2 linked regions of the Homo sapiens genome follow. The protein of the gene in region 1 interacts with the protein of each later gene in a pairwise test. Each region holds a gene or a part of one and is shown on either strand. Other genes may lie near its edges.

What was found.
Region 2: the proteins of TMC4 (region 1) and MS4A13 interact in binary tests that used the Homo sapiens proteins (3 or more experiments, as listed by UniProt).

What each region holds. Positions count from the first base shown.
Region 1 is NC_000019.10:54,159,608-54,163,160, reverse strand, and holds the end of TMC4 (voltage-gated chloride channel TMC4), read left to right. Parts: intron 1-1; coding exon 2-128; intron 129-390; coding exon 391-488; intron 489-875; coding exon 876-1,059; intron 1,060-1,900; coding exon 1,901-2,031; intron 2,032-2,127; coding exon 2,128-2,283; intron 2,284-2,550; exon of another isoform or gene 2,551-2,615; coding exon 2,616-2,694; intron 2,695-2,786; coding exon 2,787-2,855; 3' UTR 2,856-3,053; downstream 3,054-3,553. Other genes in the region: LENG1 (leukocyte receptor cluster member 1), read left to right, coding at 3,466-3,553. UniProt on the Homo sapiens protein: Voltage-gated chloride channel involved in high-concentration salt taste sensation. Depolarization induced by high NaCl concentration may trigger the activation of TMC4-mediated chloride influx into taste bud cells, helping the return to resting potential.
Region 2 is NC_000011.10:60,514,124-60,518,191, reverse strand, and holds the start of MS4A13 (membrane-spanning 4-domains subfamily A member 13), read right to left. Parts: upstream 2,801-4,068; 5' UTR 2,585-2,800; intron 2,224-2,584; 5' UTR 2,108-2,223; intron 121-2,107; 5' UTR 109-120; coding exon 1-108. UniProt on the Homo sapiens protein: May be involved in signal transduction as a component of a multimeric receptor complex.

The sequences.
Region 1 (3,553 bases):
GGACCGTGTTTCTTCGCCTCGCCTCCCTGGTGGTCCTGCTCTTCTCTCTCTGGAATCAGATCACTTGTGGGGGCGACTCCGAGGCTGAGGACTGCAAAACCTGTGGCTACAATTACAAACAACTTCCGGTGAGAACGGCATGGGTGTGCGTGGGACTCTTGGGTCCCTGAAGGAAAGATGGAGCTGGGTGGGTCCAGACTCTTGGTTTGGGCGGAGAGGGGAGCTTGGGGTGCTGGAACACTCTCCCAAGGGTATGAAAGTTTGAAAAACGAGGACCCCCAGAGAAAGTATTGACAGGGTCTCATAGGCTTGCGATGTGGAGACTCGGACGCGTGGGCCTCCAGGTGCCCGGGTCCCGAGTTCTTTCTGATATATTTCTTCCTTCTTCAGTGCTGGGAGACTGTCCTGGGCCAGGAAATGTACAAACTTCTGCTCTTTGATCTGCTGACTGTCTTGGCAGTCGCGCTGCTCATCCAGTTTCCTAGAAAGTGAGAGCCCCGCCCCTTGCTGTGGCCCCGCCCCTCTAGGACGAGGCCGTGCCCCATCGCGCTGTTCTTTTCACCGCGCACCTTTTTACCATTCCCGCCTCTGCCTGCTCCCTTTGCTTGCCCTAGGTCCGCAGATCTCCCCGCTCCCCGCCCTTGTTTTAGTGGGTTACTTCCCTCTGGCCCCGACGGCGGCGACATCTGGGTCCCTTCTAGTCCTCAGGACCCGCCCTCTGGACACACCCCCTCCACGTGGAGTCCTGAAAGTCCCGCCCCCCCCCCCCCCACCACCAATACGCATGCTTCCTATTGGCGGGCGGGGCGGTGGAGGCGTGGAAACTCCAGGCCGCCACTCCCCTGACTCCGGCCCGGCCCCGCCCCGTCCTTCAGGCTCCTCTGTGGCCTCTGTCCTGGGGCGCTGGGTCGTCTGGCGGGGACCCAAGAGTTCCAGGTGCCCGACGAGGTGCTGGGGCTCATCTACGCGCAGACGGTGGTCTGGGTGGGGAGTTTTTTCTGCCCTTTACTGCCCCTGCTTAACACGGTCAAGTTCCTGCTGCTTTTCTACCTGAAGAAGGTAAGGGGTAGGGGGGACCCTTGGGTCTGAGGCAGGAGGTATTGGGGCCCGCACTCCTGGGTCAAGGGCAAGGAAGATCCTGGGGGCCTGGATTACTCGGTCCTGAGAGAGGAGGGGGTTGGAGGACAGACTACTGCATCTGAGAGGAGGGGTCTAGGGCATTCTGACTTATATGTCTGAGGATCTGGGGACTCAGACTCCGGGGTCCTAGATGAGGAAGGGGCTCAGACTCCTGGTTCGGAAAAAAGGAGAGGCAGGTAGGCCGGGTGCAGTGGCTCACGCCTGTAATCCCAGCACTTCGGGAGACTAAGGCGGGTGGATCACCTGAGGTCAGGAGTTTGAGACCAGCCTGGCTAACATGGCAAAACCCCGTCTCTACTAAAAATACAAAAAAAATTAGCCGGGCTTAGTGGCAGGCGCCTGTAATCCCAGCTACTCAGGAGGCTGAGGCAGGGGAATTGCTTGAACCAGGGAGGTGAAGGTCGAAGTGAGCCAAGATCGTGCCACTGCACTCCAGCCTGGGCGACAGAGCGAGACTCCGTCTCAAAAAGAGAAAACAAACAAACAACAACAACAGCAAAACAAATTAGCCGGGAGTGGTGGTGCACACCTGTAATCCCAGCTACTCGGGAGGCTGAGACACGAGAATAGCTTGAACCCGGGAGGGGAGGCTGCAGTGAGAGCCACTGCACTCCAGCCTGGGCGACAGAGCGAGACTCTGTCTCAAAAAAAAAAGCCTGGGCGACAGAGCGAGACTCTGTCTCAAAAAAAAAAAAAAAAAAAAATGGAGGCACAGACTCTTGTGTTTCAGAGCCCTTTTCTCCGTGCCTTCCCCCACCAGCTTACCCTCTTCTCCACCTGCTCCCCGGCTGCCCGCACCTTCCGGGCCTCCGCGGCGAATTTCTTTTTCCCCTTGGTCCTTCTCCTGGGTCTGGCCATCTCCAGCGTTCCCCTGCTTTACAGCATCTTCCTGTAAGTGCGAGAGGCTCCCGCCTCTCTCCCTCCCTCTCTCCCCATTCAGTGTTCAGACTCCTGGCACTATGTGAGCCCAGCCTGTCTTGACTTCAGGATCCCGCCTTCTAAGCTGTGTGGTCCATTCCGGGGGCAGTCGTCCATCTGGGCCCAGATCCCTGAGTCTATTTCCAGCCTCCCTGAGACCACCCAGAATTTCCTCTTCTTCCTGGGGACCCAGGCTTTTGCTGTGCCCCTTCTGCTGATCTCCAGGTGAGACGGCCCAGACTTCTGGGTCTGGGTTTGAATGCGTGTGATCTGGGGGCCACCACCTGCGTCCAAGAGAGGAGAGGCTTGGGCGTGGGAGCAGGCAACGTACTGAGTCTGAGGGAGGAGGCCTAGGCTCCTGGACTGCTGGGTCCGAAGGAGGAGGTGGGCGGGACGTAGGACTCCTGGATCTGAAGGCGGAGGGGCTGGGAGACTGAACTCCTTGAGCCCAGACGAGGAGGGGCTTAGGCGTCCACATCCCTGGCTTCGAAGGAGCCAGACGTTTGGATATAATGGAAGAGCGTGTCAGGAGTGGCTTCCGTTCCTGTCTCCTTCAGCATCCTGATGGCGTACACTGTGGCTCTGGCTAACTCCTACGGACGCCTCATCTCTGAGCTCAAACGTCAGAGAGAGACGGTGAGCCAGGCGGGTCCCTGAGAGGGCCCCTGGGGAACATGGAAAGGGGTTGGGGAAGAGGATTGTCTCACCTCCACCTCTCTTTGCCCCAGGAGGCGCAGAATAAAGTCTTCCTGGCACGGCGCGCTGTGGCGCTGACCTCCACCAAACCGGCTCTTTGACCCCCGCAGCCCACGTCCCGCTTTCAGACCCCAGGCCCATTGTAAGCCTAGGTCACAACATCTGTAAACTAGGAGAACTGGAGAAGACTCCACGCCCTTCCAGCTTTGGTATCTGGAGATTTCCAGGGCCCCTCGCCGCCACGTCCCTGACTCTCGGGTGATCTTCCTTGTATCAATAAATACAGCCGAGGTTGCTGAGCGCGCTTTGAAATCTGCGTCCTGAAGGTGGGGGCAGGGCTACAGCGGGGCAGGAGCCAATCAAATGTACGGGCATGTTTGTCGGTGCAGAGCGCTCTTCCGCAAGGAGACTTGTCGGTCATGTCGGCCAATCGACGGCCGCATCTGGTAGCATCAGGGGCGGGCCAACTTATGATTGGTTCAGATCTGTGACAAGAGGCGGTTGCTAGGGGATACCACGAGCCGAACGCCTAGCATTCGCTGTGATAAAGGGCGTCTCAGCCAATCACCTGTCGCTACAGGCCAGGGGGCCGTACCAACTAATTCGGAACCAATCCGCGGTCGAAGTAGGGACAAGAAAAAGGGGGGCATCCTCTCGCCAATCGGAAGTGCAAAGAGGCGGGCGTGCCAGTCCCTGGACAGCTACGACGCCATGAATATCTTGCCCAAGAAGAGCTGGCACGTCCGGAACAAGGACAATGTCGCCCGCGTGCGGCGTGACGAGGCCCAGGCCCGGGAGG
Region 2 (4,068 bases), on another chromosome or scaffold:
TCCTGTTTTGTAAGTTACAGGTTCATACGTTCCAAAGGCTCCTTTAATTTGTCCCATATACAAAACCAATAGAAAGTACCACATGAAAATGTGAAAGATGCCAATCATAATCTGGATAGTCTGTGAGAAGAGAATTATGTTAGTACCGAAATAATGTAATTTAAAACACAATTCCAATAAGTGTTAACTATAAGAAGCATTTAACACCTTTACAAATACAAAAGTAAAACAGCAATGCACTTAATGATGTATTTCCTGGATTGGTTATCCCAGAAAAAAGGACCGATCAGGAAGGACTGAGATTTACCAAATAGGAATCAGTCATACTGAAAGCAACAGGCTGTTCAATAATAGTAGCTCTGGCCAATTCTCCTGTAAGTTAACAGTTTGATTCTATCACTGGATAGTCTCCCTACCTATCAAGTAATGGTATGAGAGAATATTGGGGTTACTTCAGAGAAAATGTGGTTACTAATCTACTATAATGCAGGAAGCCATAAATCCAACATTTTCTTGTACATTAGTAATTTATTAAAGATGAATCACTTTTTGAATTTTATAAAGGTTTGATTTATCTTTTCCTTCAAGGAGTATTTGGTATGATTTTTTTCACAAGTATGCTGGAGTGGGGCATAATCCAACACAGCAATACAGAAAATATCCAAAATGGACTCGCTTGAACTCGGTTTTCCCATTGGAAAGGGGAAGGATTTTGAATAGGGGAGAATTATTACTCAACTCTAATTTGTAAGAAGATAATTATAATCCCAGCAAATTTATTTCTGAATTTATATGTGAACTGATATTTCATATATTTAATCACATTTTTGATTACTCTTTAAAAATGACAGAGGACACATAAATTTTATTTTCATATAAACTTAAACAGAAAGCTATTTAATGTTTTAAGAGTTCCAGCTCTTTGCAAAGCAGGCAGTCTATGAAATATATAAGTGCAATTGGCTAACTTTAAAAAATACATTTTGGAGAAGTTTTGTTTTTTTTTTAAGAAAAAGTCTCTTTTTTGGTAACGATCATGCATTTTTATAGATTTAGAATTTAACGTTTCCCCTTGCATCAAATTTGCAAGAATGGTAATTTTCCAGAAATTCTTTGGATTTGCCTGGAGAAATATCTCCCACTAGACTGCAAAATCCCTTAGGGCCTGGAGTTTTTTTTTTTTTATTGTTTTATCACCAGCCTCTAATATGGTGCCCAGAATAGAGAAGGCATCCAGCAAATACCTCTTATATAAGCATACTGGTGTCAAGAATAGTGATTCCATGTGACTTTCCCAACTGTTAAAAAAGTAAGTGAGCTTGAAAAGTACTATCTCTTTTTAAATGATTGACTATTGTTTTATATAAAACCATGAGATAGCTAATTAGCCAATGCTTGTTAAGAACTGCCAGTGTGTGGAGAAGGACAAGATAGGTTTTCTTATTTAAAAATGATTCTTAATCTAGAATCAATATGAGTTCCAGGAGGTCAGACCCGCCTACCCCCTGCCCCCAGGGAAAAAAAATGCGAAGGATTGTGACATGTACATAATTCTGGAAAGAAGATTCAGAGTTTTCATTCTATGCCAAAATGGTCTGTGACCCCAAAGAGGTTAAGAACCTCTGCTGAACAGTCGTATAGGCGACTTAGATAATTGATCTATGCAACATTCAAATTCAGAAGAAAAGTTCACGAGTGGAAATGTTTTCTCCCCTTTGGATGTGAAAAAGCATGATACTCATAATTCCTTGGTGTTCATTAAGAAAGCTAAACTGTAACTTCACATGTTTATAACTTAATAGAAGAGACAAATTTATAATCATCCTACTGCATAAATGTAAGTGCAGTACTCTCTTTTTTCCTTTTAAACCTTACTTGGATTTCTCTATTATCCTGTGTGTGTTGGTTTAGTCTGTATCCCCATATCTCAGCACATGAAGGAACATGAGATCAGTCAAAATTTGTAGAAGACAATCAACATTTGAAAAAAAAAAAACTTTTACCCTTTTGATTTAACCAAGTCTGTCCCCCTTTAGATCCAATATATCCGTTAAAAAAATGAAATAGTTCATGATCTTAAATTTAGTTAGTCAAAGTGAAATCTTACCCCTAAAACGAGAGAATCTGCTGTAGAGATTTGTTAAAGAACACATGCCATACTGCCAGCATTTCCTCTAGATGATTTTCTCTTTAACCTTTGGTGATGTCTTTATTAGCAAACTTCTACAAAACAGTACAAAGCACATATACATTATTTTCTTAGAAGAAAATACGTAAGTTTGATCCTTTCCTTATTGTTCAGTCACCACCTCTCCAAATTCAGAAGCAATAGCCTTCTTTCTTCTTTCTAGGCCTTAATATTAGAGGCATCAACTTTCATCCATCTGTTCTGAATAACAGCCTTCATAACTGAAAAGTCTCTCTCTATGACTAAAACATATCGGCATTTTACAGCTATCATCTCTGAGTAGTAAATAGTGCCTACTGTTTACAGAGTATGATAGGGAGAGGAACACCGTAATCAGCCTCCGTGTCCCTTTATGGCTTCTGACACGAAAGCACTCCAGCAAAGCGACATCACTACCCTGCATTTTACTTGTTCAAGGTTCCAAGGAGTTTCGGGGGGCGCTCGTCCAGGACCCAGTCCGAGTTCTCACGCCAGCGCCCAGGCCTAGATGAAGAGGAAGATCCCGGCTGGCAACGCGCTCAGCGCCAGGTCCCCAGATCTCGCTGAGCTACCATCACAGGGATAGCCAGGAGCCCAGCACCCGGCCGGCTCTCAGGCTCCTCAGGGAGTGACGGTCTGCAATGGCAACGGTGTGCTCCTCTTGCGCCTGCGCACCCACTCAGGAACTGCCGGGGCGGAGGTAGTGCGTGTGCGCAGACTCACTAGGCTCCTGGCAGCCATGTGGTCAGACACCCGGTTAACTACGTTTTGGTGCCTCTAGGAACGGTTTCTGCAAACCTCTATTCTGAGATTGCCCATATTGGTGCATTTCTTATACACCCACCTGCTGCACAGTGACCAGGATCACTGAGGAGAAGTCCGCCCTTCACCTTTTCTGTCTTCAAAGAAAAATTTTGACCACAAGAGCACCTTTGGAAGGTGCACTTTCGAGTGAAGTGGCTAAATCAATGGCTCACTTTTTTTTTCTTTAAACATAAGTAACTGAAGAAGGAAATTAGTGATGAAAGTAATACTTAACAAGACACCAGAATGACTTTTTGATCCACTTGCTGAGGCGGGTTTACCTTTTAGGTGACACGTGGTGTTAGTTTTCTGTTTGAGGTGTAGACAGTAGTTAAAACAGTGTTTATGAAGAGGTGCTTTAGATGAGCAGTACAGACCATCCTCTTAGGCAGCTATCATGACTTACTGAGGCGTTTAAAGTACCTGGAGAACAGCCACTCAATGGCATTTCTCATTTATTCATGGAAAATTTAAATTGACATTGTGGAATAGTTAAAATTCCAGCTTGTAGTGTAAATTTTTAGTCAATGATAGCCAGTGAGTAAAACACGCAGAAAACAAGACAGATTTTTCTTTCATAAGGAAATTTTCTATGCTTTCAACACCTTTATTTGCAAAAAGCTAAATCATGAGTGTGTCTAAAAGCCATCAAGATCTTTTATAGCCTGAAAAATCAACTGTAAATTGAGAATCTTAATTTTTAGTCTCACAGCTAGCTTCCTTACATTGAGACTCCAAAGTCCCCTCAAATCAAAGGAAAAAAAAACAAAAAAAAAAAGCCCAGCCTCTTCTAAAGTCTTTACATTCTGTATTGGTCAGTATGTCATTGAAGGTAATAGTTTTATTCTTAAGTAATATACCACTTCAGTTTCTAGCATTATTATTATTTTGTGAGTTCCTTGTCTATGAGCAGACAGGGCTCCGATAATATTAAGCATTCTCTTTGCTGTAGAAAGAGGAACTGTGTCTTCAACCTCAGGGTTATGGATTTTTTAGAATCCATAGTAGTAAGAGCCAGTTCTGATGAGATGGACCGCTATTGTAACTTGCTGCCAAGACTGATTGATTATTTGTGAGAGAAGTGACATATTTCTTCA